Regions from separate parts of the Homo sapiens genome. Here all the other regions are linked to region 6. Evidence: fine-mapped QTL for protein levels in blood plasma. A gene starts in region 6. Each other region holds a variant in brackets. All regions are shown on one strand. Distances are from middle to middle.

Region 1 (4,457 bases), 650 kb after region 6:
TATGTAAGTCTTTAATCCATCTTGAATTAATTTTTGTGTAAGGTGTAAGGAACAGATCCAGTTTCAGCTTTCTACATATGGCTATCCAGTTTTCCCAGCACCATTTATTAAATAAGGAATCCTTTCCCCGTTTCTTATTTTTGTCAGGTTTGTCAAAGATCAGATAGTTGTAGATGTGTGACATTATTTCTGAGGGCTCTGTTCTGTTCCATTGGTCTATATGTCTGTTTTGGTACCAGTACCATGCTGTTTTGGTTACTGTAGCCTTGTAGTATAGTTTGAAGTCAGGTAGCATGTTGCCTCCAGCTTTGTTCTTTTGGCTTAGGATTGACTTGGCAATGTGGGCTCTTTTTTGGTTCCATATGAACTTGAAAGTAGTTTTTTCCAGTTCTGTGAAGAAAGTCACTGGTAGCTTGATGGGGATGGCATTGAATCTATAAATTACCTTGGGCAGTATGGCCATTTTCATGATATTGATTCTTCCTACCCATGAGCATGGAATGTTCTTCCATTTGTTTGTATCCTCTTTTATTTCATTGAGCAGTGTAGTTCTCAATGAAAATAAAACTCAGTGTAGTTTTATTTGTAGCTCTTCTTGAAGAGGTCTTTCACATCCCTTGTAAGTTGGATTCCTGGGTATTTTATTCTCTGAAGCAGTTGTGAATAGGAGTTCACTCATGATTTGGCTCTCTGTTTGTCTGTTATTGGTGTATAAGAATGTTTGTGATTTTTGCACATTGATTTTGTATCCTGAGACTTTGCTGAAGTTGCTTATCAGCTTAAGGAGATTTTGGGCTGAGATGATGGGGTTTTCTAGATATACAATCATGTCATCTGCAAACAGGGACAATTTGACTTCCTCTTTTCATAATTGAATGCCTTTTTTTTCCTTCTCCTGCCTGATTGCCCTGGCCAGAAGTTCCAACACTGTGTTGAATAGGAGTGGTGAGAGAGGGCATCCCTGTCTTGTGCCAGTTTTCAAAGGGAATGCTTCCAGTTTTTGCCCATTCAGTATGATATTGGCTGTGGGTTTGTCATAAACAACTCTTATTATTTTGAGATACATCCCATCAATACCTAATTTATTGAGAGTTTTTAGCATGAAGGGCTGTTGAATTTGTCCAAGGCCTTTTCTGCATCTATTGAGATAATCATGTGGTTTTTGTCTTTGGTTCTGTTTATATGCTGGATTACATTTATTGATTTGTGTATACTGAACCAGCCTTGCATCCCAGGGATGAAGCCCACTTGATCATGGTGGATAAGCTTTTTGATGTGATGCTGGATTCTGTTTGCCAGTATTTTATTGAGGATTTTTGCATTGACGTTCATCAGGGATATTGGTCTAAAGTTCTTTTTTTGTTGTGTCTCTGCCAGGTTTTGTTATCAGGATGATGCTGGCCTCATAAAATGAGTTAGGGAGGATTCCCTCTTTTTCTATTGATTGGAATAGTTTCAGAAGGAATGGTAACAGCTCCTCCTTGTACCTCTGGTAGAATTCAGCTGTGAATCCATCTGGTCCTGGACTTTTTTTGGTTGGTAAGCTATTAATTATTGCCTCAATTTCAGATCCTGTTATTGGTCTATTCAGAGATTCAACTTCTTCCTGGTTGAGTCTTGAAAGCATGTATATGTTGAGGAATTTATCCATTTCTTCTAGATTTTCTAGTTTATTTGCGTAGAGGTGTTTATAGTATACTCTGATGGTAGTTTGTATTTCCGTGGGATTGGTGGTGATATCCCCTTTATCATTTTTTATTGCGTCTATTTGATTCTTCTTTCTTTTCTTCTTTATGAGTCTTGCTAGGAGTCTATCAATTTTGTTGATCTTTTCAAAAAACCAGCTCCTGGATTCATTGATTTTTTGAAGGGATTTTTGTGTCTCTATCTCCTTCAGTTCTGCTCTGACCTTAGTTAATTCTTGCCTTCTGCTAGCTTTTGAAAGTGTTTGCTCTTGCTTCTCTAGTTCTTTTAATTGTGATGTTA[A/G]GGTGTCAATTTTATCTCTTTCCTGCTTTCTCTTGTGGGCATTTAGTGCTATAAATTTCCCTCTACACACTGCTTTAAATGTGCCCCAGAGATTCTGGTATGTTGTGTCTTTGTTCTCATTGGTTTCAAAGAACATCTTTATTTCTGCCTTCATTTCGTTATGTACCCAGTAGTCATTCAGGAGCAGTTTGTTCAGTTTCCATGTCGTTGAGTGGTTTTGAGTGAGTTTCTTAATCCTGAGTTCTAGTTTGATTGCACTGTGGTCTGAGAGACAGTTTGTTATAATTTCTGTTCTTTTACATTTACTGAGGAGTGCTTTACTTACAACTATGTGGTCAATTTTGGAATAAGTGTGGTGTGGTGCTGAGGAGAATGTATATTCTGTTGATTTGGTGTGGGGAGTTCTGTAGATGTCTATTAGGTCAGCTTGGTGCAGAGCTGAGTTCAATTCCTGGATATCCTTGTTAACTTTCTGTCTCGTTGATCTGTCTAATGTTGACAGTGGGGTGTTAAAGTCTCCCATTATTATTGTGTGGGAGTCTAAGTCTCTTTCTAGGTCTCTAAGGGCTTGTTTTATGAATCTGGGTGCTCCTGTATTGGGTGCATATACATTTAGGATAGTTAGCTCTTCTTGTTGAATTGATCCCTTTACCATTATGTAATGGCCTTCTTTGTCTCTTTTGATCTTTGTTGGTTTAAAGCCTGTTTTATCTGAGACTAGGATTGCAACCCCTCCCTTTTTTTGTTTTCTATTTGCTTGGTAGATCTTCCTCCATCTCTTTATTTTGATCCTATGTGTGTGTCTGTATGTGAAATGGGTTTCCTGAATACAGCATACTGATGGGTCTTGACTCTTTATCCATCTTGCCAGTTTGTGTCTTTTAATTGGAGCATTTAGCCCATTTACATTTAAAGTTTATATTGTTATGTGTGAATTTGATCCTGTCATTATGATGTCAGCTGGTTAGTTTGCTCGTTAGGTGATGCAGGTTCCTTCTAGCCTCGATGGTCTTTACAATTTGGCATGTTTTTGCAGTGGCTGGTACTGGTTGTTTCTTTCCATGTTTAGTGCTTCCTTCAGGAACTCTTGTAGGGCAGGCCTGGTGGTGACAAAATCTCTCAGCATTTGCTTGTCTGTAAAGTATTTTATTTCTCCTTCAGTTATGAAGTTTAGTTTGACTGGATATGAAATTCTGGGTTGAAAATTCTTTTCTTGAAGAATGTTGAATATTGGCCCCCACTCTCTTCTGGCTTGTAGAGTTTCTGCCAAGAGATCCACTGTTAGTCTGATGGGCTTCCCTTTGTGGGTAACCTGACCTTTCTCTCTGGCTGCCCTTAACATTTTTTCCTTCATTTCAACTTTGGTGAATCTGACAATTATGTGTCTTGGGGTTGCTCTTCTCGAGGAGTATCTTTGTGGCGTTCTCTTTATTTCCTGAATTTGGATATTGGCCTGCCTTGCTAGATTGGGGAAGTTTCTCCTGGGTAATATCCTGCAGAGTGTTTTCCAACTTGGTTCCATTCTCCCCGTCACTTTCAGGTACACCAATCAGACGTAGATTTGGTCTTTTCACATAGTCCCATATTTCTTGGAGGCTTTGTTCATTTCTTTTTATTCTTTTTTCTCTAAACTTCTCTTCTCGCTTCATTTCATTCATTTGATCTTCCATCACTGATACCCTCTCTTCCAGTTGATTGAATTGGCTACTGAAGCTTGTGCATTCGTTATGTAGTTCTCATGCCTTGGTTTTCAGCTCCATCAGGTCCTTTAAGGACTTCTCTGCATTGGTTCTTCTAGTTAGCCATTCATCTAATCTTTTTTTCAAGGTTTTTAACTTCTTTGCCATAGGTTCGAACTTCATCCTTTAGCTCAGAGAAATTTGATCATCTGAAGCCTTCTTCTCTCAACTTGTTAAAGTCATTCTCCATCCAGCTTTGTTCCATTGCTGGTGAATGCAGCTGCATTCCTTTGGAGGAAGAGAGGCTCTCTGATTTTTAGAATTTTCGGTTTTTCTGCTCTGCTTTTTCCCCATCTTTGTGGTTTTATCTACCTTTGGTCTTTGATGATGGTGACGTACAGATGGGGTTTTGGCATGGTTGTCCTTTCTGTTTGTTAGTTTTCCTTCTAACAGTCAGGACCCTCAGCTGCAGGTCTGTTGGAGTTTGCCAGAGGTCCACTCCAGACCCTCTTTGCCTGGGTATCAGCAGTGGAGCTGCAAAACAGTGAATATTGGTGAATAGCAAATGTTACTGCCTGATCGTTCCTCTGGAAGTTTTGTCTTAGAGGGGTACCCAGCTGTGTGAGGTGTCTGTCTGCCCCTACTTGGGGGTGCCTCCCAGTTAGGCTACTCGGGGGTCAGGGACCCACTTGAGGAGGCAGTCTGTCCGTTCTCAGATCTCCAGCTGTGTGCTGGGAGTACCACTACTGTCTTCCAAGATGTCAGACAGGGACATTTAAGTCTTCTGACGTT
Region 2 (4,469 bases), 490 kb before region 6:
CTTTGGTATTTTGGGAAGGGGGGAGATTTGCATATGCTCCTGGGGTTTTTGTGAGAACTATTAATTTGAAATTGATTGTAACTCAGATACCACGCATGTGAGTTTTGTGTTATCTATAATAAAGGGATTTGCTAAACAATGTTAAGAAATGGGGGCCAGGTGGGTGCCCAAATGTTGCAGCCTCTGGCTACTCAGAACTACCATTTTAAGCACCTACCCAGCTCTGCCTCACCAGGGAAGGGCTTCTGCTCCAAAAGGACCTTTTTTTCTTCTTCCCTAAAAAAAATCCCATTTTTTCTATTTCACTAGCAATTTTGCACTAAGTGCCAAGGGTTAATCCCAGTGGAATTATTTTCAAAGAGATACAGAATGTTAAAACTCTGGAATACAAAGCAACAAAGCCCGATAGAGATGTTTTAGACAGGAGGAAGAATTACAGAGTGTTATCCTAGAGGGAAGAAAGGGCTTCCCACTACTGCTCTAAAGAGATCAAATAGTTATGTGCCTGTTCTATCAACTTCTAGATGAGGGAAAAGAAAATTGTGTATGGTATATGCTTGCTTGACCAACTTAAAAATGTTAAACCGCTTCCAAACATTTTTGGAAATACTTTAGCAGTACTTCCCACTCCTTCCATTTAAAGCAAAATATACTTACAACAGTTATTCTATCCTAACCATTCATGAAAATGGGCTGCCAGATCTTCAAGTGACAACTTCTATCAGTCTAGATTCAACTGCTTTGAGAATCTGGTACAAGTAAAAATTGTTTCTTTGAAAAACTTAAATTTTATCTCACACAGCTCTGAGATTTGAAAACAAAATAGAAATCTAAAAATGTTTTTAAAATAAAAATAGGCTGAGCACAGTGGCTCACGCCTGTAATCCCAGCCCTTTGGGAGGCCGAGGTAGTTGGATCCCCTGAGGTCAGGAATTCAAGACTAGCCTGACCAATATGGTGAAACCCCACCTCTACTAAAAGTACAAAAATCAGCCAGGCGTGGTGGTGTGCGCCTATAGTCCCAGCTACTCAGGAGGCTAAGACAGGAGAATTGCTTGAACCCGAGAGGCAGAGGTTGCAGTGAGCCAAGATTGCAGAGATCACACCACTGCACTCCAGCCTGGGCAACAGAGTGAGACTCCATCTCAATAAATAAATAAACTAATTAATTAAATAAAACAAATTTTCATTAACTGCGACAAGACTTCTCCCTCTAGCCCACCTAATTCCAAATTACTGAAGTTTTTGCTACATTTCAAAACAGAAACGTAGCAGATACATTATGCACAAACTATCGATTTAGGCACTGCTCTGGAAATCACAGCACCACAAAAACTGGTGAATGGCAAAACTTTCCTGTTCAAATAAATAGGAAGGTCAAAGGTACATTGATATGATATATTACTCTTTGCCTAGTCATATGATTTACTTCTTTTCTGTCACAATGTTGGCGACTATTTTAAGTCCAGTATGCTCTAGGATAGATATCAGGGTTCTAGGGTTTCCATACACTGTCATAACACCTGCACCTACTTTTAGAACTTTTCACTTGTATGCTTTTTTAGGTTTTTTTGGTTTTGTTTGTTTGTTTGTTTTGTTTGATTGTTTTTGGACACAGTCTCTCTCTCTGTCACCCAGGCTGGAGTGCAGTGGTGCAATCTCAGTTCACTGCAACCTCTACCTCCCAGGTTCAAGCAATTCTCGTGCCTCAGCTTCCTGAGTAGCTGGGATTACAGGTGTACACCACCATGCCCGGCTAATTTTTTGTGTTTTAGTAGAGACGAGGTTTCACCATGTTGCCCAGGCTGGTGTCAAACTCCTGAGCTCAGAGGATCCACTCGCCTTGGTCTCTAAAAGTGCTAAGATTTACAGGCATGAGCCACCGTGCACAGCAGCTTTTTTTATCTTTGGTGACACTCATCTCTTTCCATTACTTGCTGCTTCTTCCTTCTCTGTTCCTTTGCCTGCATTGCTGTGACTCACTTCCTGTATCACCAATCCCTATCCATTCCTGTGCCCCCCAAGTAACTAGGTACTCACACCCTCCCCTTGCTGCAGCTCAGGGTGCCACTCACCCTCACTTAAGCCATGAGGACATCACACCATGCACACCCCCAACACATAGATGCTTTTCAGAAGTGCTGGCACTG[G/A]CGCTCCTCATCTGAGCCCTCTGGCCAATGCTGCAATGCCCAGTTCTACCCCCGCTACCAGAAATCCCTCTGCTTGCTTGGTGGGAGAGGAGGCAAACCCCACTCCAGGATGGGAGCTCCTTGCTCTCTTTTTTTTTTTTTTTTTTTTTTTTTTTTTGAGACAGGCTGGGGTACTGTGGCACGATCTCGGCTCACTGCAACCTCAACCTCTCGGGTTCAAGAAATTTTCCTGCCTCAGCCTCCCTAGTAGCTGGGATAACAGGTGTGTGCTACCACGCCTGGCTAATTTTGGGGTTTTATTTTTTGTTGTTGTTGTTGTTGTTTTATTTTTCTGAGATGGAGTTTTGGTCTTGTTGCCCAGGCTGGAGTACAATGGTGCAATCTCAGCTCACTGCAACCTCCACCTCCTGGGTTCAAGCAATTCTCCTGCCTCAGCCTCCGGAGTAGCTGGGATTACAGGCATGCAACACCATGCCCACCTAATTTTTGCATTTTTAGTAAAGACGGGGTTTCACCATGTTAGCCAGGCTGGGTCTTGAACTCCTGACCTCAGGTCATCCACCCTCCCCCGCCTCCCAAAGTGTTGGGATTACAGGCGTTAGCCACCACGCCTGGCCTAATTTTTGTATTTTTAATAGAGATGGGGTTTTACCATGTTGGTCAGGCTGGTCTTGAACTCCTGACCTCAGGTGATCCGTCCACCTCAGCCTCCCAAAGTGCTGGGATTACAGGCATGAGCCACCACGCCTGGCCACTCCTTGCCTTTAGGGTAAACTAACTCTTCCACTCTGGGTTCCCAAGCCCTTGGTTGTCACCTGCTGCCCCTCCCCTTCCCCATATCTACAGCATCTCACCCTTTCCCCTCATAAGTATGCTTAAGCCTCTCCCATGTTACCAACAACTTTCCAGTACCCTCTCTTCCTCTTTTTTTTTTTTTTTTTTTTTTTTTTTGAGACGGAGCCTGGCTCTGCCGCCCAGGCTGGAGTGCAGTGGCGCGATCTCGGCTCACTGCAAGCTCCGCCTCCCGGGTTCACGCCATTCTCCTGCCTCAGCCTCCCCAGTAGCTGGGACTACAGGCGCCCGCCACCACGCCCGGCTAATTTTTTATATTTTTAGTAGAGACGGGGTTTCACTGTCTTAGCTAGGATGGTCTCGATCTCCTGACCTCCTGATCCGCCCGCCTCGGCCTCCCAAAGTGCTGGGATTACAGGCGTGAGCCACCGCGCCCGGCCGTCCCTTCCTCTTTTTTACTCTATACACCACCTTGACTTTAGAAACAAACTGCATCTTATAAAATAAATTATATAAAGTACTTCCATTTCCACAGCATCCACCCCACTAACCAGCACATGACAGTCAGACTCACGACCACCCAGCAGCACAGAAAAGCTGCACTAGAAGTTCATCTGTGACCTCTTAGAAGCTAATTCGGCCGGGCACGGTGGCTCACGCCTGTAATCCCAGCACTTTGGGAGGCGGAGGCGGGTGGATCACGAGGTCAGAAGATCGAGACCATCCTGGCTAACACGGTGAAACCCCGTCTCTACTAAAAATACAAAAAATTAGCCGGGCGAGGTGGCGGACGTCTGTAGTCCCAGCTAGGCGGGAGGCTGAGGCAGGAGAATGGCTTGAACCCCGCGGGGCGAAGCCTGCAGTGAGCCGAGATTGCGCCACTGCACTCCAGCCTGGGCGACAGCGAGACTCCGTCTCAAAAAAGAAAAAAAAAAAAAAAAAGCTAATTCAAGGGACACCTTCAACCAGCATCCCTTTTGGCTTTTCTTTAATAGTGGACACTGCAATCACTCTTTCTTTCTCTTAAAATTTCTCATCTTTTAGAACGCCACCCCTTTCCAGTTTGTAAGTTATGGAGAAAAAAACCAAAGTATTTTTTCTAAACTTTCACTCAACAATCGACACAGAAGACTTCTGTGACCTCTGGTCACCAAGGCGTTGTATGGGGATTTCTCTCCGCTGTCAAAAGACAAAATTACAACACAATTTAGTTTGAAGATCTTAATTGGTTTTTGTTTGCAATTTTAAAATTGTGCAACACCTCCTTCTATACAATTGAATGAATGTTACAGTGAGTCAAGCAGAGGAGGCTGGTTTTATAAACTGACAAGAGCTGAGAAGGTCAGAAACAGTAAACAAAATGCAGATTGGTTTCAGTTAATTTCCTCATAAAAGTTAAAGCAAAGGGAACTTCCTTAACATGTTGGCTAAAACTGGCCTGTTTGGAAATTTAGTTATTGTCTCTATCTCTCTTGATTTCTTGAAAGGTCAAACAACTTAGTTTTGGCTTGGTGATGTGTAAGTTTA
Region 3 (4,469 bases), 440 kb before region 6:
AGCCCTTGGCATAATATGCCTGGAATGCCTGCTATTGGCAATAATACAGTGCTTTATTAGCATCCAACTGGACCAGTGTTTCCTGTTATTTGCTGTTCAAATCATGCTACATGATTCTGGTCCCTTTTACATACTACTCTCATTTTGATTGATTGCGCTCAGCAGTGTTCCACTCTCCAAGGAGGGACAATGAACTGTAGGTAGCAATGTTTTATCACATAAAACCTGAAGAGTGAAAAGCACAAAGTTTATCTTGATTATTTTCATTCATAAGCACTTTCCAAGTTACAGAATATTAAGCATCAAATAATTTTTTTTTGAAATCGAGTCTCGCTCTGTTGCCCAGGCTGCAGTGCAGTGGTGCAATCTTGGCTCACTGCAACCTCCACCTCCCGGGTTCAAGGAATTCTCCTGCCTCAGCCTCCCGAGTAGCTGGGATTACAGGTATGCTAATTTTTGTATTTTTAGTAGAGACAGGTTTTGCTATGTTGGCCAGGCTGCTATCGTCAAACTCCTGACCTCAAGCGATCTGCCCGCCTCGGCCTCCCAAAGTTCTGGGATTATAGGCTGAGCCACTGTGCCCAGCCTAGCACCAAATAATTTATAATCAAAATGTATATGCAATAGTTCTGGCCTTATTGAATACCAAAAAATCCTTACCACTTTATCATGTAGCGAAAAATAAATAAATAATGAGAGAAAAAGTCATATTTATACATTAAAAATCAAAGTCCTTCAGTTGGAATTCTCTTACTGTGTATCTCACTGGACAGAAATCCTATTAATACAACTAGTATGAGAAAGTCTGCAGTGATATTTCTATCAAACCTGAGAAAATACACTGGGAATAGGTCCAATATATGTAATAAAAGTCAAAAAATTATTCTCAAGGACACTAGACTTAATGTTGAATCAGGGAACCTATAGCGAACAAAAATACTATAGAAAGCCAATCACTGGCCCTCTAACCTAAACATGTACCAGAAAAATATTGACATCTAATGCATAAAAAGTTTCAGTCCCATCTTAATTTTTAAGTATCACTGTCTGTATACTGGAAAATATAAACATAAAAAGAAATGTTTCAATGTCTTCTATTTTGGACATAAGGAAACTCACATTTCAATGAATTGCAACTGTACTAAAACCATAGATTCAGCCATTTTGAACTCAAGGAAGTACACAGTTTGATGACAAAAATAATTTAAATTAAATCATATCCTTTTTAAAAAATTCTTTTTTTTCCTTTTCTTTTCTTTTCTTTTTTTTTTTTTAATGAGACAGGGTGTCGTTTTGTCCTCCATGCTGGAGTACAGTAGCAAGATCACAGCTAACTGCACCCTCAGCCTCCCGGGCTCATTCGATCCTCCCATTTCAGCCTCCTGAGTAGCCCAGGCTGATCTTGAACTCCTGGGGTCAAGCAATTGGCCCATATCAGCCTCCCAGAGTAGAGGGGTTATAGGCGTGAGCCACAGGGCCCAGGCCTTGGCCTAAATCATATCTTTTTTTTTTTTTTTTTTCTGAAACACGGTCTCACCCTGTCACCCAAGCTGGAGTGCAGTGGTGCAATCAGGGCTCACTGCAACCTCTACCTCCCAGGCTCAAACAATTCCCATGCCTCAGCTTCCTGAGCAGCAGGGACTACAGGCCTGAGCCACCATACCCAGCTAATTTTCATATTTTTTGTAGAGATGGGGGTCTCCCTATGTTGCCCAGGCTGGTCTCTAACTTGTGGGCTCAAGCAATCTGCCCTCGTCGACCTCCCAAACTGGAGGGATTACAGGTGTGAGCCACTGTGCCTGGCCCTAAATCACATCCTAATAATAATTTCATTGAAAATTTTTTTATAGATATCACAATGTATTTAGAATAAATTAGCTCTTCTAGTAATTTAGAGCAATTGTCAGACAAACATTTTCTATAAAGGGCCGGACAGTAAATATTTTATACTCTGTGGCATGAAGTCTGTGTCAAAACTAGCCTCACTCAGGCTGGGTTCAATGGCTCACATCTGTAATCCCAGCACTTTGGGAGGCCAAGGCAGGCGGATCACTTTGAGCTCAGGAGTTGGAAACCAGCCTGGGCAACATGGCAAAACCCCATTTCTTCAAAAGATAAAAAAAAAAAAATTAGCTAACCATGGTGGCTCACGCCTGTAGTCCCAGCTACTCAGGAGGCTGAGGCTGGAGAATGGCTTGAGTCTGGTAAACGAAGGTTGCAGTGAGCTGAGATCGTGCCACTGAACTGCTGCCTGGGCAACAGAGTGAGACTCTACCTCAAAAAAAAAAAAAAATTATCCACTCATCAAATGCAGTGCAAAAGGGGTCAGAGGCAATACATAAATGATGGGTACTGCTCTGTCCCAATAAAACTTTATTTATAAACACATATTGAATTTTATATAATTTTATGTCATAAAA[G/T]ATCATCCTTTTGGTTTTTTAAACTATGTAAAAATTTTAAAATAATTCCTAAACTACAAGCTCTACAAAACACAGGCATGAAAAAGGCTTAGTCCTATCTATGTACTAAATAGTACAATACTTCAATAAATAAAAGGCTGCAGTTTTACTAATGCATGAAAAGACCAATCAGTGAAATAGAACAGAAAACCAAAAATACACCCACATATATGCATAGAAATTTAATATTTAATAAAGGGGACAATTCAGATTACTGTGGAAAAGGCGGATTACTCAATCAAGGATTGAATTATCATTGGAATAAACAGGTTAACCTGCCGGGTACGGTGGCTCACGCCTGTAATCCCAGCACTTTGGGAGGCCGAGGGGGGTGGATCACAAGGTCAGGAGATCAACCATCCCGGCTAATATGGTGAAACCCCGTCTCTACTAAAAACACAAAAAATTAGCCAGGTGTGGTGGCAGGCGCCTGTAGTACCAGCTACTCGGGAGGCTGAGGCAGGAGAATGGTGTGAACCCAGGAGGCAGAGCTTGCAGTGAGCCAAGATAGCACCACTGCAGTCCAGCCTGGGTGAAAGAGCGAGAGTCCGTCTCAAAAAAAAAAATAAATAAATAATAAAATAAAATAAACAGGTTAACCTATTAAAAATCCATTTGAGGCCAGGTGCACTAAGTCACACCTGTAATCCCAGCACTTTGGGAGGCCAAGGAGGGAGGATCACTTGAGCCAAGGAGCTTGAGATCAGCCTGGGCAAGATGGTGAGACCTTGTCTCCACAAAAATAAAAACAATTAAAAAATTGGCCAGGCATAGTGGTCCATGCCTGTAGTCCCAGCTGCTCAGGAGACTGAGGTGGGAAGATAACTGGAGCCCAGGAATTTGAGGCTGCTGTGAGCTATGATCATACACCGCACTCCAGCTTGGGTGGCAGAGTGAGGCTCTGTCTCCAACAACAACAGCAACAACAATAACAACAACAAAAAACAGTAAAATTAGACTTAAATATATGTAAAATAATAAAAATAATAAAAATTCACTTGAACTATACCTAACAACCTAAATCGAATCACACCTTAGGAACATCAAACATTTAAATGTAAAAAAGAAAACTCAAACCATACCACAGGAAACCATTAGCAAATATTTTATAGGCATGGACTAAGGAGGGCATTCGTAAGAATGAAACAAAATCCACAGATAATAAATATAAAAAGATTCAAGCTGGGCACAGTGGCTCATGCCTGTAATCCCAGCCCTTTGGGAGGCCGAGGCGGGTGGGATCACTTGATGTCAGGAGTTTAAGACCAGCCTGGCCAACATGGAGAAACCCCATCTCTACTAAAAATATAAAAATTAGCCAGGCGTGGTGGTGCGTGCCTGTTATCCCTGCTCCTCGGGAGGCTGAGGCAGGAGAATCGCTTGAGCCAGGGAGGCAGAGGTTGCAGTGAGCTGAGACTGGGCCACTGCACTCCAGCCTGGGCGACAGAATGAGACTCTGTCTTAAAATAAAAATAAATAAATAAATAAATAAATAAATAAATAAATAAATAAATAAAAGACTACGTAGCTATAAGAAATTACAAGAAAGTGTTTCTGCTCTAAAATGCAACCATCCACAAGATATATTGAGTTAAAAAATGGCAAGGTGCTAAAGAGTGTATTGTATGATGCTATCTATACAGAAAAAAGAAGAAAAGAAATTGTGTATGTGTATTTATCTGAGAACTAAGGATACACAATAAATTAGAAACAGGTTTCTTATGGCCAGGAGCGGTGGCTCATGCCTGTAATCCCGGCACTTTGGGAGGCCGAGGTGGGCGGATCACGAGGTCAGGAGATTGAGACCAGCCTGGCTAACACAGTGAAACCCCGTCTCTACTAAAAATACAAAAAATTAGCTGGGTACGGTGTCAGGCGCCTTTAGTCCTAGCTACTCGGGAGGCTGAGGCAGGAGAATGGCGTGGCCCCGGGAGGCAGAGTTTGCAGTGAGTGGAGATCGCGCCATTGCACTCCAGCTTGAGGAACAAGAGCAAGACTCCGTCTCAAAAA
Region 4 (4,469 bases), 480 kb before region 6:
TCAATGACAGACTGGATAAAGAAAATTTAGTACATATACACCACGGAATACTATGCAGCCATAAAAAAGAACAAGATAATATCTTTTGCAGGAACATGGATGGGGCTGAAGGCCATTATCCTTAGCAAACTAACACAGGAAGAGAAAACCAAATATTGTATGTTCTCACTTACCAGTGGGAGCCAAATGATAAGAACTCATGAATACAAAGAAGTAAACAACAGACATTAAGTTCTACTTGAGGGTGGAGGGTAAGAAAAGGGAAAGAAGCAGGAAAGATAAATAGTGGGTAATGGGCTTAATACCTGGGTAATGAAATAATCTGTACAACAAACTCCCATGACACAAGCTTACCTATGTAACAAACCTTCACATGTGTCCCAAAATCTAAAATACAAGTTTTACAAAAATTATCTTTGAAAAATAACAAACCACTTATATAGTCAGCAGGGGTGGAGGAGAAGGCAGCCAGCTAGGACCAGCTGGTGGCCCTGGAAAAATTATTCATGCACAATTATGGAAATAATATCATCCTAAGTACCACATAGGGCAACAAACGCAGAGTCAGAGATGGTGTGCAGTGAGTTGTCTAATACTAGTTATGCACAATCTTGGTTACCTCATATTTTAGAGTAATAAAAAAGGCAAGGTTTGCAAGTGTAACACATGGAGTAAGTAATCATCTTTATTTCGTATATTCATGGGAAGGTGCACACACACAGCAAAGAGAGGAGTCCTGATACTCTTAGCTTTGCCTGTCCATGCTGGATGTAGACTCACAGCAAGATGGGCACATCTGAAACCAAAAGTGTCAATAATTTTCTGATGGCAGAGGGTTTTTTTGGTTTTGTTTTTCTTCTTTTGTTTTGAGTTTAGAGACAGGGTCTTGACCTATTGCCCAGGCCAGAGTAGTGACGCAATCATAGCTCACTGATGTCTCAAACTCCTGTACTCAAGTGATCCTCCTGCCTCAGCCTCCCAAAGCACCAGGATTACAGGTATGAGGCACTGCACCCAGCCTCATTGTAGAGTATTTATTTATTTATTTATTTATTTATTTATTTATTTATTTATTTGAGACAGGGTCTCATTCTGTCGCCCAGGCTGGAGTGCAGTGGCGCGATCTCAGCTCACTGCAACCTGCACCTCCCAGGTTCAAGTGATTCTCCTGTCTCAGCCTCCTGAGTAGCTGGGACTACAGGCACGCACCACCACACCCAGCTAACTTTTGTATTTTTAGTAGATACTGGATCCACCATGTTGTCTACGCTGGTCTCGAACTCCTGGCCTCAAGTGATCCACAGCCTCTCAAAGTGCTGAGATTACAGGCGTGAGCCACTGTGCCTGGTAATACAGCATTTAAAAAGCAGGACTATGCTAACAAATACGCACTCAAATGAAATATAGTTTCTATTGCATCCTACATGAGTTTCTCAAGATTCCTTATACTTGAACAAATAGATATTCTATGAGAATTTGGCAGCTTCAAATGTGTGGGTTTCATTTAGCATGGCTTCTCAAGTTCCCAGGTCATAAATCCATTTCTCATTCAGTGGCTCTATCACTCTGTCAATCTCTGGCTCACAGTTGCAGTTTTTCAACTCGCAGATGATGTCAAAACATAGAAAAATAGAATCCTGTTTAGTGCTGATGGACATTAACTTCTAACATCAATTTAACTCCAGGTGATTAGTTTAGACTAATCGTGATAATCT[C/T]ATTCCCCTTGCCAGTGATTGCTTTAGGAAATGGCACATGTACCAGTTTTGAAATGAAGTAAAACCTAAAGGAGGCTTCCAGCAGAGGTTGTCTCATTTCTGAAAAGAGACACAAAAAAGGACTCATATCTTCTTTCTTTCTCCTGGTGTTTATGACAGGATATGATTTTGGAAATGGCTACAGGTATTTTGCTACCAACCTGAAGAGGAAGCCAACACAAGGTGGAAGGGAGCCCTTGGCATAATATGCCTGGAATGTCTGCTATTGGCACTAATACAGTGCTTTATTAGCATCCAACTGGACCAGTGTTTCCTATTATTTGCTGTTCAAAGCATGCTACATGATTCTGGTCCCTTTTACATACTTCTCTCATTTTGATTGATTGAGCCCAGCAATGTTCCCCTTTCCAAGGAGGGAGAATGAACTGCAGGTAACAAGTGTTTTATCACATAAAACCTCAAGAGTGAAAAGCACAAAGTATGTCTTGATTATTTTCATTAATAAGCACTTTCCAAGTCATATTAAGCATCAAAGAATTTATAATCAAAATGTATATGCAGTAATTCAGGCCCTATTGAGTACCAAAAAACTAATACTATAGAAAAATCCTTACCACTTCATCTTGTAGCCAAAAATATATAAATAAATAAACAGAGAAAAAAGAAAAATTCTATTTCTACATTAAATGTCAAAGCCCTTCATTTGGAATTCTCTTACTGTGTATCTTGCTGAAGAGAAATCCTATTAATACAACTAGTATGAGAAAGTCTTCAGTGATAGTTCTATCAAACCTGAAGAAATACACTGGGACAAGTCCAATAAATGTAACAAAAGTCAAACATTTATTCTAAAGGACATTAGACTTAATGTTGAATCAGGGAAACTTTAGGTGGAGAAAAATATTATCGATAATATAGAAAGCCAATCATTGGCCTGCTAACCTAAACATGTATCAGAAAAAAATTTACATCTAACCCATAGAAAGTTTCAGTCCCATCTTAATTTTTAAGTACCACTGAATGTACACTGGAAAATAACATAAGCAATGAGAAATGTTTCAATGTCTTTTCATCTTATTTTGGTCATGAGAAAACTCACATTGTAATGAATTGCAACTATACTAAAGTCATAGATTCAGCTATTTTGCCCTCAAGAAAGTACACAATTCAATGACAAAAATAACGTAAAGTAAATCATATCCTTTAAAATTTTTTTGTTTTTTTAGACAGGGTCTGCTTCACTCATCCAGGCTGGAGGGCAGTGGTACCATCACAGCTTACTGTACCCTCAACCTCTCAGGCTCATTCGATCCTCACGTCTCAGCCTCCTTAGTAGCTGGGACTACTACAGTCATGCCCCACCATGCTCAGCTAGTTTTTTTTGTAGTTTTTGTAGAGATGGGGTTTCTCATGTTGCCCTGGCTGGTCTGTCTTGACCTCCTGAGGTCAAGCAATCATCCCACCAGAGCCTCCCAAAGTCCTGGGCTTACATGCGTGAGCCACCCAGCCCCGCCTAAATCATATCCTTAAGTAATGATTTTGTTGGAAAGGTTTTTACAAGTATCACAACATATTCAAAGTAAATTAGCTCTTCCTGGTGATTTAGAGCAATTGTCAGGCAAACTTTTTCTATAAAGGCCACAGAGTAAATATTTTATGTTTTATGTCATGCAGTCTCTGTCAAAACTACTCACTCAGCAATTGCAGTGCAAAACTGGTCAGAAGCAATACATAAATAAATGATAGGTACCGGTCTATCTCAAAAATCTCTATTTATAAGCACACATTGAATTTTATATAATTTAATGCATAATCAAATATTAACCTTCTTTTAATTTTTTAAACCATGTAAGCCATGTGATCCATGATTCCTAAACCACAAGCTGTACAAAAAGTAGACAAAAAAACGGATTAGTCCTACCATGTACCAAGTAGTACAAAACTTCAATAAATACAAGGCTGTGTTTTATTGATGCATGAACAGAAAGGCAAATTAATGAAATAGAATAGAAAACCAAAAAAAACCCACATATATGCATAGAAATTTAATATTTGATAAAGGAGACAATTCAGATTAGTGTGGAAAAGGTGGATTACTCATTCAATGATTGAGTAATCATTGGGATAAACAGATTCACCTATTAAAAATCCAATTGAGACCAGGCTCAGTGGTTCACACATGTAATCCCAACACTTTGGGAGGCTGAGGCACAAGGATCACTTGAGCCCAGGAGACTGAGATCAGCCTGGGCAAGATGGTGAAATCTTTTCTCTACAAAAATGAAATAAATTAAAAAATTAGACAGGAGAAGTTACGTGCACCTGTAGTCCCAGCTACTTGGGAGGCTGAGGTGGGAAAATAACTTGAGCCCAGAAGTTTGAGGCTGCTGTGACCTATGATCACACCACTGCACTCCAGCCTGGGTGACAGAGTGAGACCCTGTCTCCAAAAAATAAAACAGTAAGAATAGATGTAAAAGTATATATGTATAAAATATTAAAAATCTGTTTGAACAAGACCTAACAACCAAAATCAAAACACATCTCAGGAACATCAAATATTTAAATGTTAAAAAACAAGCCCAAACCATACCAGAGGAAACCACTACCAAATATTTTATAGTCATGGAATGAGGAGGGCATTTCTAAGAATGAAACAAAATCCAGAGACAATAAATATAAAAAGATTCATGAATTCATCTCATAGATATTAAAAATATCTCCATGGCAAATTCCACCAAAACAATGTAAAAA
Region 5 (4,469 bases), 1.3 Mb after region 6:
TCCATTTCATATGCCTAGATCTACATTAAATGGTTTTGTGAACATTAGGGTGTTTCTTGAGTATTCACTTTCTGTCTCAACCTGGACTAGTTACAATGAAGGTATATAAAGCTTACCTCCACCTATAAAAGCTGACACTCCAGGTGTGACTACAGACTGCACAGGGATTAGCAATGGGGGTCCAATGGCTGTTTCAGGTTTCTGTGATTGAGACCCAGGCAGGTTCAGAACTTTTAATCCACTGCCATTCTCTCTCCAGAATAGCTCCATTCTCCTGAAAGTCAAAAGCACAAAGGAAGATAACCCTTGTCTCCCTACAGGCTTTCTCAAGTAAAAGAAGAGCTAAAACAAGAAACCTTCAAGTAATAAGGCTTGCGCAGCACGGCACACCATCTCAGATTTTGCCAGCTCCTGACTCACAGACCAATTACCAGTCAGAAATGTTTTATTTGACCTATAGAATATTTTTATTTTTAAAAACAAATGAATAAGTACCAGCATTTAAAATATGAGAGACATTTTTACATGAACAATTAGATTTCTGGTTCCTCTTGAAACACTGGAGGACTAAGCATACCCACATCTCCTTATGACAACAGTTGGCAGAGGCTGATTAGCCAGGGGTCCTCTGAGACATGAGTATACTTTCCACAGTCACCACCAGCCCCAGTTGTCTCCTAGACCATTTTCGATTCACTGGAGTTTGAATCTCTCTGCTCTACTTCTAGTTCCACAATGTCTTCTGTCTCCTAGAAGCGCCTCAAGCAATTTCATGATATTTTTCTCCCAATAACACCTCCTGGGCTCTTCATTGGAAGACGAAGGACACAGGAACACAGGCTTTGGAGGTAGATAGACCAGAGTTCAAAGATGGGCCCGATGTTTGTTTTTATTATTATTATTATTATTATTATTATACTTTAAGTTTTAGGGTACATGTGCACAATGTGCAGGTTAGTTACATATGTATGCATGTGCCATGCTGGTGTGCTGCACCCATTAACTCGTCATTTACATTAGGTATATCTCCTAAAGCTATCCCACCCCCCTCCCCCCACCCCACAACAGGCCCCAGAGTGTGATGTTACGCTTCCTGTGTCCATGTGTTCTCACTGTTCAATTCCCACCTATGAGTGAGAATATGCGGTGTTTGGTTTTTTGTTCTTGCGATAGTTTACTGAGAATGAAGATTTCCAATTTCATCCATGTCCCTACAAAGGACATGACCTCATCCTTTTTTATGGCTGCATAGTATTCCATGGTGTATATGGGCCACATTTTCTTAATCCAGTCTATCATTGTTGGACATTTGGGTTGGTTCCAAGTCTTTGCTATTGTGAATAGTGCCACAATAAACATACGTGTGCATGTATCTTTATAGCAGCATGATTTATAGTCCTTTGGGTATATACCCAGTAATGGGATGGTTCGGTCAAATGGTATTTCTAGTTCTAAATCCCTGAGGAATCGCCACACTGACTTCCACAAGGGTTGAACTCGTTTACAGTCCCACCAACAGTGTCAAAGTGTTCCTATTTCTCCACATCCTTTCCAGCACCTGTTGTTTCCTGACTTTTAAATGATTGCCATTCTAACTGGTGTGAGATGGTATCTCACTGTGGTTTTGATTTCCATTTCTCTGATGGCCAGTGGTGATGAACATTTTTTCATGTGTTTTTTGGCTGCATAAATGTCTTCTTTTGAGAAGTGTCTGTTCATGTCCTTCGCCCACTTTTTGATGGGGTTGTTTGTTTGTTTCTTGTAAATTTGTTTGAGTTCACTGTAGATTCTGGATATTAGCCCTTTGTCAGATGAGTAGGTTGCGAAAATTTTCTCCCATTTTGTAGGTTGCCTGTTCACTCTGATGGTAGTTTCTTTTGCTGTGCAGAAGCTCTTTAGTTGAATTAGATCCCATTTGTCAATTTTGGCTTTTGTTGCCATTGCTTTTGGTGTTTTAGACCTGAAGTCCTTGCCCATGCCTATGTCCTGAATGGTAATGCCTACGTTTTCTTCTAGGGTTTTTATGGTTTTAGGTCTAACGTTTAAGTCTTTAATCCATCTTGAATTAATTTTTGTATAAGGTGTAAGGAAGGGATCCAGTTTCAGCTTTCTACATATGGCTAGCCAGTTTTCCCAGCACCATTTATTAAATAGGGAATCCTTTCCCCATTTCTTATTTTTCTCAGGTTTGTCAAAGATCAGAGATCAATGAAACAGAACAGGGCCCGATATTTTTTAAAACTTCAGGAAATGGCTCATGTGATAACAATTTCACTCTCAAATGAGTCACAGAGGCAAGCCAGTGCACACATTCTTTTTCATTTGATCTTTTTACAATTCTGTCTTGTTCTCAGCCTAGCTTCTTCGGTTTACACAGAACTTGGTTGAACCTGGAAAATGCCTTATTGTTTCACCTTTATTCTTGTTCTCCTGCCAAGGTAGGATGTTTTCCCCACTGAGCATTTGGCTTAAGTTGGGAGTTACTCCCTCCCAACATGACCA[A/G]TGGTACCCAGATAGGTTTAATAAAATATATTAAACATATTTAGAATCAGTGTATATTTTTCCAATCACGAGCAAGACTTCAAATATGTCTTGAAAGCAGGAATGTGATTCTTTGATTTTATGTCTCTTGGTTCCACTGCAGCTTCACTTTCCTAACTGAACCTAAAATAAACTTATAGTCTGATCATATTGTACTTAAGTTTCTACCTACCAAAAGGAATCTGTTATTTCCTACATTGTTCTTTAGCTATTTTCTACACAGTTTTTCGATCTAGATTTAACACTCCTTATTGGCAAGGATTATTTTTATATGTTTTTCATGGATTCCTGGGCACTTAAAACAGTATCAGGCACATCAAATGGCTTCAAATAAATACTTCTTGCTCCCTGACTCAATTTTGCTCATTCCATTTTATTTGTTTAGAATTCAATGTGAATGCTTTCATTTGAGGTAATATTTCATTTATTTATTTAAAATATAGCCAATAAACAAAACATTGTAAAATTGCTGCAGGAATTTTACAGATCTTCTTTGTCTTTTGTTTGGGATTTTAATCTGGAATAAAAGTTTGGTATGCTGTTCACTGTAGAAACGGTGCTTTAGGCTGGGCGCCGTGGCTAACACCTGTAATCCCAGCACTTTGGAAGGTTGAGGCAGGTGGATCATTTGAGGTCAGGAGTTCGACATCAGCCTGGCCAACATGGTGAAACCCCATCTCTACTAATAAAACAAAAACTAGCCGGGCGTGGTGGCATGAACCTGTAATCCCGGCTACTCTGGAGGCTGAGGCAGAAGAATCGCTTGAATCTGTGTGCAGAGGTTGCAGTGAGCCAAGATCACACCACTGCACTCCAGCCTGGTGACAGAGCAAAACTGTTTCAAAAAGAAAGAAGGAAAGAAAGAAAGGAAGGAAGGAGATGAAGGAAGGAGAGGAAAAGGAAGGAAGGGAGGAAGGGAGAAAGAGAGGGAGGGAGGAAGAAAGGGAGGGAGGGGGAGGGAGGGAGAGACAGAGAAAATAAGGGAGGAAGGAAGAAGGGAGGAAGGAGGGAGGGAGGGAGGGAAGGAAGGAAGCAAGGAAGGATGGAAGGAAGGAAGGAAGGAGGAAGGAAGGGTACTTTAGACATTGACGCATCAAAAAATGTATGATCAAGCCCTCTGCCTTAATGGAAGTGACACCATGCCTACTCAGAGAAACACCTGTCAAAGAAGTTATTTTGGTATGAGTTGCATCTACATGTTGCAAAATGGTATCTAAAAAACCAATCTGATGCATGTATTTTTGTAAATGTTTATAAGCTTGAAATGTAGTATTAGCATTTCCTTTCCTCATTCTTCCCAGACCCAAATGTTTACAAATAGGAGTGAATCCAGAAATATTTTCCATCTTAATGTATGGATATCTTATATATCTTGTGATGCTCAGACACAAAGGGACAAAGACATTGCCATATAGACAAAGGAAATTGCCAGCATCTCTTATCCTTCAAAGAGAAACTCAAAATAAGAAAATCAGAACAACGGAGTCACATAAGTAACAGATCATAGAAGTCAAGAAAAGCAAATATAGGGAAATAAGCAAGACTCACATGTTGAGAGGGGTGGGGGGATGAGGGAGTGGTGGATAGAGGAGGCAAGATGCAGGACTAACTCTGCAACCTACCGTGTTTGTCAGGATATACCGCTTGCCACTGAACCCAGGCCTGTGTGCAACCATGCTGACTCTGCACAGCTTGACTCTGGGGGGAATGGAGCCCCCAGCTGTATAACACATAGGCCCTCGGCAGTCATAAAGAGACCCAACCAGTCTATACCAGTAAGCCCACATCTGCATCACCAGGGAAAGGGAGCAACATAAGAAATATTGTAATATACCAGCATACTATTTTATAGTTGTTTGCCTTATAGTATTTTTCCCCTGTTCCAAACCAAAAGCAAGACCTTTTTAACATATCCTTCAGCTTGGATA
Region 6 (4,463 bases):
ATCCTGTTTTTGTCTGTTTTGTGTTGCTATAAGGTAGTACCCAAGGCTGGGTAATTTATTAAAAAAAAAAGTTTACTTGGCTTACAATTCTGCAGGCTGTTCAAGAAGCATGACATTGGCATTTGCTTGGCTTCTGGTGAGGTCCTCAGGCTGCTTCCACTCATGTGGAAGGGGAAGGGGAGCTAGTGTGCAGAGATCCCATGGTGAGAGAGGAAACAAGAGAAGCAGGAGGTGCCAGGCTCTTTTTAACAACCAATTCTTGTGGGAACTGAGTACTCACTCACCCCCCGACCCCCAGGGAGGACATTCATCTATTCATGAGGATCCACCCACAGAACCCAAACATCTCACATTGTGCTCTACCTCCAACACTGGGGATCAAATTTCAGCATCAGCTTTGGGCGACAAACATCCAAATGACAGCAAACCCAATATCTTATTGTTACATGTTCAGACCATTTTCAGTTTTTCTTTTGAGACAGAGTCTTGCTCTGTCACCCAGACTGGAGTGCAGTGGCACCATCTTGGCTCACTGCAGCCTCCACCTCCTGGGTTCAAGTGATTGTCATGCCACAGCCTCCTGAGTAGCTTTTATTACAGGTATGTGCCACCATGCTGGGCTAATTTTTGTATTTTTAGTAGAGACAGGGTTTCACCATTTTGGCCAGGCTGGTCTTGAACTCCTGCCCTCAAGTGATTTGCCTTCCTCAGCCTCCCAAAATGTTGGGATTACAGGCATAAGCCACCATGCCCGGCCCATTTTCAGTGTTTCTTTTTTCTTTTCTTTCTTTTCTTTTCTTTTTTTTTTTGAGACGGAGTTTTGCTCTTGTTGCCCAGGCTGGAGAGCAATTCTGCGATCTCGGCTCACTGCAACCTCCAACGCCCAGGTTCAAGCAATTCTCTTGCCTCAGTCTCCTGAGTAGCTCGGATTACAGGCATGTGCCACCATCCACACTTGGCTAATTTTGTATTTTTAGTAGAGATGGGGTTTCACAATGTTGGTCAGGTTGGTCTCGAACTCGTGACCTTAGGTGATCCACCCGCCTCGGTCTCCCAAATTACTGGGATTACAGGTGTGAACCACCACGCCTGGCCTCATTTTCAGTTTTTCTTAATAAAAAATCCCACTTCTGAGATGAACATTTTTCATTAATCCTTTTAACACATTTTTATTGAATAGCTACTCTGTGCCAGGCATGTAATAGCCTCATCTCTATGCAAATCCATATGCCTAAATTTTTGCATGACTACGCCTTTCGACAAGTGTGTATTGTGGGAAGGAGGGCATAAACAGGAAGGTGGCATCACTTTAAAATCCACACAGATTTATACAATGTGGTTCTAAGACTTTCTGTAAGTCTTCTCGGGAGGCAACATTATCATCTAATCTTTTGCAGTCCCTCTTATGTTTGCCTACCTCTAGAATGAACCTGAATTTATTAATCCACCTTTATGAAGTGAAAGATTGAGAAGAATTTTCTGTGTTCTTAATTGCCTTTGCTCATCAAATTGCCCCCAAATTGCCCCCACTTGTAGAGTCTCCATGGCCTACTGTCTGCTAAAGTAAAGCAGAATCCCAGTCCTCGTTCCAGACCTGCCAAGTCAGAGTCTGTTTTCATGTGATTCTCACACACATTGGCATGTGAGAAGCACTGAGTTAGACCTTGGTGCTTGGCCCACCCTTGACCATGGTCCTCCTCTCTGAACAACGGAGGTGAGGAGACCAGTAGTAACAGCTGTGTCAGGAACAGGTCAGCACCCAGGGATCCACACAGACACTTTTGACCATTCCTAAGTCCTGCCTGCACAGGAAGTTGGCCACTAAAGATAGGCTGCCTGAAGGAAAGGACATAAGGACCTTTGCAAGCTGTTCAGCAGGGAGAAAAAGGGTGGAACAGGAAAGGGAGGAAAGCAAGTTTCTGGATTCCCCAAACCACAGTTTGTCTAGGTGCTACTTTCTCACTTTTCCTTATTTAGCACATAGCTTTGTCATGAGACATCTTTTTGCTGACCTCTTTTCCGTTTGCATTTTGCCCCATATTAGAATGCTACCATCTAAAACCGCTCCATGAATTAGAAAGTTTAAGTTGTCAGGGACTGAATGTGTCTGTTTTCCAACAGTTTCTGGCAGTTCCCTGCTTTTATGGTGTAGTCATGGTGAAACCTGAGTCATCTGAAGATGGTGGCAGTGCCAGAGAGCAGGAGAGAGGAGCTGCAAAGAAGCCAGACAGCGTTGGGCATCAATAACTCCTGGGCACCACCGGCCACTGGCCTTCATTCTGACAGGAGAGCCAACCCAACCCTAACTGTGTTCAGAGATTGCTCCAAGCTTTACAGTTCTACCAAATTCTTTCTGTAGCAAAAATATAAAGGCATCTTCTTAGGTAATTTTTTTTCAGGGTTCCAAGTAGCAACACCTAACGTCTGCAGTGCGAGTTCTCTTCTTCTTTTTTTTTTTAAGGTGATAAATCATAACATTTTCCTGGAAAGGAAAGCAGTAGACCTCATTTTTTGTTTTAAGGAAAAATAGTTTTTCTGTTTCCATTCATATACATTAAATAACTACCCAGGAAATACGCCCCGGTTTTGCGCGCGTGTGCGTGCGTGTGTGTGTGCGTGTGTGTGTGTGCCGTTTCTCTAAAATTCTGACTCATAGTCTGGAGGACAATGATTGACTTTTTTCCACTTCACATAGTTGCTATGAATTTCTCCTCACAAGGATGGGCCTGTTTACTCACCCTGGGCATCGTTGGTAGAGCGCTAGTGTAAACAGCCTGAGGAACCCGGTGGGCCGGGGAAGTGGGCGCGCTCTGTTCTCCGCGGCCAGCTGGGACGCCGGGCCAGGTGGGGCCGCCTGCGTTTAGCAACTGCTTTCTCACCCCCTGGATTTGCGATGTTTGCCACAGCAGCGAGAAGCGCCATTGTAATGGGGATGGGAGGGGTGGAGCCTCCAAGTCCTGTCTCAATTTAGATCTCTCACTCTGCTGTTAGGCGCGCCCATTTCAGATTACTAAACTCGAATTAAGAGGGAAAAAAAATCAGGGAGGAGGTGGCAAGCCACACCCCACGGTGCCCGCGAACTTCCCCGGCAGCGGACTGTAGCCCAGGCAGACGCCGTCGAGATGCAGGGCCCACCGCTCCTGACCGCCGCCCACCTCCTCTGCGTGTGCACCGCCGCGCTGGCCGTGGCTCCCGGGTAGGAACGTGGGCGCGCGGGGGGCGCGCGGGCGCGCGGGCCTGGGCCGCTCTGCGGCTCTGGGCCAGGGCTTCGGGGAGGTGGCGGCTGCTGTGCAGCAGCGGGTGGGAAATGCCCTCGCGGCTGCAGTCCCCAGCCTGGTACTGGCCTGGAGGTTTGACCATATGTAGCTTCAGCGTGGCTCTCCATGGGACAGTTAACTTTCTCCACTCATGAAGTTGTTTAAGCGTCTCCCCGGCCATAACAACTTTCTGAAGAGAGTCATTTTATTTTTAGTCCACATTGCCTCTGCCTTTTGCTTCTCAACTTTTTGCTCCCAGATTGCGATTCTTCTCTCAAAGACATGATATATTTTTTCTAACCAAGATGTCTCAACCTTAGCATTGCCAAAGTGTGGCGGAGGGGACTGATGTATGGGTTCAGGGGCAGACATTATAGGAAGAAAACAACAGCACCCAATAATGGCAAGCCCCATTCATTCCTAAAGATTTCTGTAGTTGAGCCCTAACCCCTAGTTATAGCAGAGAAAGTGCTGCTTTAGTGACTTCTTTTATGATTCGCTATACCTGGAATTTTCACCAGTTGTAGTTTATTTTCAAATGGTATATTTCAATCAATGGTATTGGTTAAATAATTTTTTACCCTCGTTGGGCAGCTACTCAAGGATAAAGGTTTGAATAAGAAACAGGCAAAATCTTAGTTAAAAAATAACAACAACAACAAGAAAATAATCACGCTGGGATAAGGTCCTCTGTAAAGGAGAAGCTTAGAGACTTTTGCTTTGCCAATAACTCCATTATGCCCCGGTGCAAGCCATTTACATCATGGTTCCTTCTGTGCGGTTCGTGGTTTATAAAATGGAAATAATAACACAGGCCTTCCTCTAGTAGTGATGCATGAATTACTGCATTAAAATTGATTTATGGGAATTATTGTTGTTTCAGTAGCATTTCAATTCAGTTGCCAAATAGAGCAGTGGGCAATGTTAACGGAAACAACTGCAATTGGCGCAGTATGGAGTGCCTATCGCACTAGGAAATCTGAGGGTCACAAAAGAAAGGAGATGTGAGGATAAGAAACTTTGTTTTTCCCTTGTTGGGAACTCTTTAGGCCTCGGTTTCTGGTGACAGCCCCAGGGATCATCAGGCCCGGAGGAAATGTGACTATTGGGGTGGAGCTTCTGGAACACTGCCCTTCACAGGTGACTGTGAAGGCGGAGCTGCTCAAGACAGCATCAAACCTCACTGTCTCTGTCCTGGAAGCAGAA
Region 7 (4,469 bases), 520 kb before region 6:
GAAAGAGCTTTGTTAAAACAGTGCAATGCAAAGCTTACCTGCTTCTTACCGGTATTGTTTTCAATGAATTACTACATCTAGGATCAAGGCTACTCTTTTTTTTTTTTTTCAATTTTTAAAACTATTTCAACAGATATAAAATTATCCTGTCAAATTGCTATTAAAAGTTTCTAAGCACTAATCTCTTCATGGATTGGTACCCAAGAGTTGGTGAAGCAGCTCTGGTCCTCAGATCACACTTTTAAGGCCACTCTTAATAAGATCCTCAGTGACAGTTGTTTTCCTGTCCGTTTGTTTTATACAACCATGTTTTATGTCAGTTGTCAAGAACTGAATCAAAATACTGTGAAACCTGTTCTTTTTGTGAATATCAACAAAACCACTGATGCAGATTATTCATTATTCTGAAGAGAAATGACCAAGACGCTATCGATTGTGCCTTGCTCTTACCGTCTCTTACTATCTCCGTGCAATAATGGTCATGCCTGCTATGTTTCACTTTATGAAACCTTTTCTTTCCCAGGCCAGACTAGCCTTTTAGAGAATCAAATGAATACATGAATAAGGTCCAGGGTGAAAACTCAAAGAAGTCTTTAGTTGAAGCTGACAAACGACTTTACACTGGTACCATTGGCTAATTCTATCCCCTCCTCCCACCCTCCCTGAAGCTGCTAGGGAGAGGTAGTCCAAGAAACAGGACAGCCTCTGTACATCCTTGAGCAACTCATATTCCCTCTTCAAGCCTCTGTTTCCTCACTGGCAAACTGGGGATGGTAATGGTATTGACCTCATAGGGTTGTAGTAAGGAATGAATAAATGAATAAACATTTGCAAAGCACTTAGAACGGTATACACGGTCAGCACTATGTAAATGCTAATATTATTACCCTTGAGTTGTCTGGACTCCTTATGCCTTCCAGCATGCTGCCTCCACTGCCCGTCCTCTGCTCTGGGTCAGTCTTTTCCTTTCTGAGCTCCACCCGCTTCCATGATGAGTCACATGAGAAGAGCACTTTGTTCTGTCTTTGAATCAGGGTGCTCCCATCTTCCAAAACATACACAGCCTCACCTGCTTGCATCTCCTTCACCTGGAAGCACTTGCCATTTTCCCCTTGAAGTTACCTTCCCACTACCTGGACTGAGAAATTACTCAGAGTTGGAAGAGCAGTTTTTTTTTTTTGAAACAGAGTTTCACTCTTGTTGCCCAGGCTGGAGTGCAACGGCGCGATCTTGGCTCACTGCAACCTCCACCTCCCAGGTTCAAGCGATTCTCCTGCCTCCGCCTCCTGAGTAGCTGGGATTACAGACATGCACGACCATGACTGGCTAATTTTGTATTTTTAGTAGAGACAGGTTTTCTCCATGTTGGTCAGGCTGGTCTCGAACTCTCGACCTCAGGTGATCTGCCCCCCCCTTGGCTTCCCTAAGTGCTGGGATTACAGACATGAGTCACTGCGCCTGGTCTAGAAGAGCAATTTTTTCAACCATGAAGAGCAATCATGAGCCAATGTTCCAAGTAAATCTCACCTCTTTTCTCCTCAGGGTGAGCTTGCTGCCTTCCCAGGCACCCTCTGAAGAAGCAACAGGATAATGAAAGGGAGAAGTTAGCTCTTCCCTCTCCCTCCCTGACCCTTGTCGAAGCCTGACTATAGACTCTTTAAAACTCTTCCCAGCGTTCAGTGCATGCATTTGAAAAATAGGTCTTGAGCTTCAACTGTGCACCAGGCACAGAGATAAACGTTAACAAAAAAGATGGATCCCTGCTTAGAGTTGTGAGGAACTACCAGAAAAGTAGAGTCAATTACAATGCAGAGCAGCATATTACTACAGTGACAGGAC[G/A]GTTTGGGCCAACCTATATCGGCACTTTTGGGGAAGGTGGCATTTGGGAAGACTCTAAAAGAAAGAAAAGAAGAAATCTGGTAGATATGTAGGAACTAGCCAGGTTACTAAGGAGGATATAGAGGCTGGGCAGAGAGAACTGCAATTGCAAAGAAGCAGAAGTGAAGGTGGCATTAGAAAGCACGGGTGATGGTTGAAGGTGGAGGACAAGGATGAGGAGAGTAAGGCTGAAGAGAAGAGCAGGAACCATAAGAATGAGCAGGAATGTGGGGGATTCTAAGTACAGAAATGAATTTATCAGATCAGTGCATGATATGGTTTGGATCTGTGTCCTTGCCCAAATCTCATGTCAAACTGTAATCCCCAATGTCAGAGGAGGAGCCTGGTGGGAGGTGATTGGATCATGGGGGCGGATTTCCCCCTTGCTGTTCTCATAATAGCAAGTGAGTTCTCATGAGATTGGTGGTTTAAAAGTGTGTAGCACCTCCCTCCCGCTTCTCTCTTTCTTCCTGCTGCTCCGGCCACATAAGAAGCCTGCTTCCCTTTTGCCGTCCGCCATGATTTTAAGTTCCCTGATGCCTCCCCAGTCGTGCTTCCTGCACAGCCTGCAGAACCATGAGCCAATGAAACCTCTTTTATTTATAAATTTTTCAGTCTCGGGTATTTCTTTACAGCAGTGCAAGAATGGACTAACGCAGTGCTTCATTTGAAAACTTGGAAAGATGACTCTGATTGCAATGTAAGGAATGTATTGGGAAGAGAGAACTATTATTACAATACCTGGATCTGCTGGGGCCTGAGCTGGGCAGTCATGATGGAGAATAGTCAAGGATGGATTTCAGATAGGATTTGGATATTTACTGATTGGAGAGGATGGAGGGAAAGAACAGGAGGAATCAAGGATGGCATATCTGGAGGATGGTGAGACAGGCTGGCTTGAGGGGAGATGGTGCATTATTGTGAGTGTTGAGTTCAAGCAGTCACAGTAGGGCTCAGCAGGTAGGTGGATCTCTGGATCTGACACCCAGGAGAGCAGTCTGGAATATGGACAAATTTGGTAGCTGTCAGCACAGAGATAAATGGTTTGTGGAAGTCTCACCCCAGGGAGTAAAAAGAGAAGATGGTCAACACAGAAGTCTAAGGCTCACAAACAGGAGCTGCAAAAGTAAGAATGCTCTGAAGGAGATAGATTCAAACAGCCAGACAGATGGAAAACCAGGAGAGCGTGACAGAAGAGAAGCCAGAGGAAGAAAGTGTTTCAAGTAGGAGGCAGATGTCAACGCTGTTAAATGCTGCTAAGAGGTCAAAGAAGATAAAGAGTGAGAAGGTCCTTTGAAAGTGGCAACAAGGAGGTCATCTGTGACTTCGGAGAAAAATTCAGTAGAAGGAAAAGGGTTTGAAGCCAGATGGTAAATAGAACACTTTTTTAAATTACCAGAATCTCTCACTCTAATATGAACATAGATGAAGTGTCAAGAATTTCTTTGTAACTAGCAAAGGCTCATCAACTCTTCTAAAATAGCTCAGATCTGATCAGTGAACTGAAGAACCACTAATGACATTTCAGAGTTCCTGAGGTGGATATGCAAATCAGGCCTCACTGTTACCCTGGGTTGGGTGATAAAGTTTTTCAGTTTTCTTGCCCCTGTGTTATTCCTGTTCTGAAAGGCATGTATGGGACCATTATCTTGACCATCCCTAAAATGCAATCTCAGCTGTGAATCCTTCTTGCATCTCACTTCATATTTCAGGCAAGAATACTCCGCAAGTAAAGAAGAGGCACGTGTTTGCCATTGCGGGTTTTGTTAAATCTACAAGCTGTTTAATCATCACCAGTTCTTAATTTTGCTGATGGCATCTCTGCTATTTTAGCAGAGGTGATGAGTCTTTGTTTGCAAGTCACTATTAAGACATTCTTGACAGCCAATCTATGACATGTTACAGTAAAGGACGCTGCTAAAGAACATTTTATGGATCATTTAGCACATATCTTTAAAATCAGCTAATATACTCCCTGGAATGTTGTTTTTGCTTGTTTTTGTTTTGAAGGTAATTAGTTGTGGCTACATTTGCTCCGAGGCTGTGTTAAAGTAGTGTTTTCACTGAAGATGCACTTACTTTGTAGCATGTGAGATATTAAACCTTTTCTTTGGCTATAATTTAAACTGAGTTTTCTATTATTTGCTAAAAATATAGAATCTCCTATTCCATGTTAAAAATATTTTAAAGTAGTCAACATGTATAGTCAATTTATTTATTTACTTATTCATTTCACACTTTATTATTTGGTTTTTTTTTTTACACTTTAAAATTTATGCAAGATTTTACACTCCTAGGAACACAAAATCCCCAAATTTAGTCGCCATATCAATGCTTACAAATTCCTGGCAGGAAAGACTTCTTCGGATCTGGAAGTTCTTGCTTGGGTTTTACTACTCTTATACCCTTAAAAGAAAATCCAACAAAAATCTACAGGAGGGGCCAGGTGCAGTGGCTCATGCCTATAATTTCAACACTTTGGGAGGCTGAGCTGGGAGGATGGCTTGAGCCCAGGAGTTTGAAACCAGCCTGGGAAACATAGCAAGACCCATCTCTACAAACATTAAAAAAAAACAAAAACTCTGCAGGAG

Alleles and levels. Positions count from the first base shown, and alleles are read on the strand shown. Strength reflects both the effect of a copy and how common the allele is.
For the plasma level of the protein whose gene starts at base 3,110 in region 6, allele A in region 1 goes with a lower level than allele G (moderate association).
For the plasma level of the protein whose gene starts at base 3,110 in region 6, allele A in region 2 goes with a higher level than allele G (moderate association).
For the plasma level of the protein whose gene starts at base 3,110 in region 6, T is the low allele of the variant in region 3 and G is the other (moderate association).
With allele T in place of C in region 4, the plasma level of the protein whose gene starts at base 3,110 in region 6 is higher (moderate association).
For the plasma level of the protein whose gene starts at base 3,110 in region 6, G is the high allele of the variant in region 5 and A is the other (moderate association).
For the plasma level of the protein whose gene starts at base 3,110 in region 6, allele A in region 7 goes with a higher level than allele G (moderate association).

The links. PIP is the chance, under the fine-mapping model, that this variant and not a neighbour inherited with it causes the effect. Protein levels are from antibody-based Olink assays in UK Biobank. Linkage for the fine-mapping came from a reference panel and not from the study's own genotypes, which makes the PIPs less certain.
Region 1: its variant is fine-mapped to the plasma level of the CD109 protein (UK Biobank, PIP above 0.99).
Region 2: its variant is fine-mapped to the plasma level of the CD109 protein (UK Biobank, PIP above 0.99).
Region 3: its variant is fine-mapped to the plasma level of the CD109 protein (UK Biobank, PIP above 0.99).
Region 4: its variant is fine-mapped to the plasma level of the CD109 protein (UK Biobank, PIP above 0.99).
Region 5: its variant is fine-mapped to the plasma level of the CD109 protein (UK Biobank, PIP above 0.99).
Region 7: its variant is fine-mapped to the plasma level of the CD109 protein (UK Biobank, PIP above 0.99).

Annotation. Positions count from the first base shown.
Region 1 is chr6:74,338,890-74,343,346 of GRCh38, forward strand. All of the region lies in intron 1 of LOC101928516 (a long non-coding RNA gene), which reads left to right. Among named protein-coding and RNA genes, the nearest start is that of CD109, 640 kb to the left of the region's middle. The variant A/G (reference allele first, on the strand shown) is at 1,987.
Region 2 is chr6:73,198,987-73,203,455 of GRCh38, forward strand. No RefSeq gene overlaps it. Among named protein-coding and RNA genes, the nearest start is that of KHDC1L, 24 kb to the right of the region's middle. The variant G/A (reference allele first, on the strand shown) is at 2,151.
Region 3 is chr6:73,250,539-73,255,007 of GRCh38, forward strand. All of the region lies in intron 1 of KHDC1 (KH domain containing 1), which reads right to left. The region is part of intron 2 of LOC122539213 (KHDC1-KHDC1L); the gene reads right to left. Among named protein-coding and RNA genes, the nearest start is that of KHDC1, 10 kb to the right of the region's middle. The variant G/T (reference allele first, on the strand shown) is at 2,421.
Region 4 is chr6:73,216,960-73,221,428 of GRCh38, forward strand. No RefSeq gene overlaps it. Among named protein-coding and RNA genes, the nearest start is that of KHDC1L, 6.3 kb to the right of the region's middle. The variant C/T (reference allele first, on the strand shown) is at 1,716.
Region 5 is chr6:74,944,840-74,949,308 of GRCh38, forward strand. No RefSeq gene overlaps it. Among named protein-coding and RNA genes, the nearest start is that of SNORD156, 180 kb to the right of the region's middle. The variant A/G (reference allele first, on the strand shown) is at 2,503.
Region 6 is chr6:73,693,094-73,697,556 of GRCh38, forward strand. It overlaps CD109 (CD109 molecule), which reads left to right and starts at 3,110. Exons shown (of 33, transcript NM_133493.5): 1 at 3,110-3,196; 2 at 4,307-4,463. The coding sequence starts at 3,123. CD109-AS1 (CD109 antisense RNA 1) reads right to left here and starts at 3,038. Exons shown (of 2, transcript NR_110889.1): 1 at 2,739-3,038; 2 at 810-2,482. RefSeq lists enhancers at 2,740-2,999, 2,953-3,667 and a silencer at 3,230-3,279.
Region 7 is chr6:73,173,988-73,178,456 of GRCh38, forward strand. The region is part of intron 11 of KCNQ5 (potassium voltage-gated channel subfamily Q member 5); the gene reads left to right. Among named protein-coding and RNA genes, the nearest start is that of KCNQ5-AS1, 33 kb to the left of the region's middle. The variant G/A (reference allele first, on the strand shown) is at 1,840.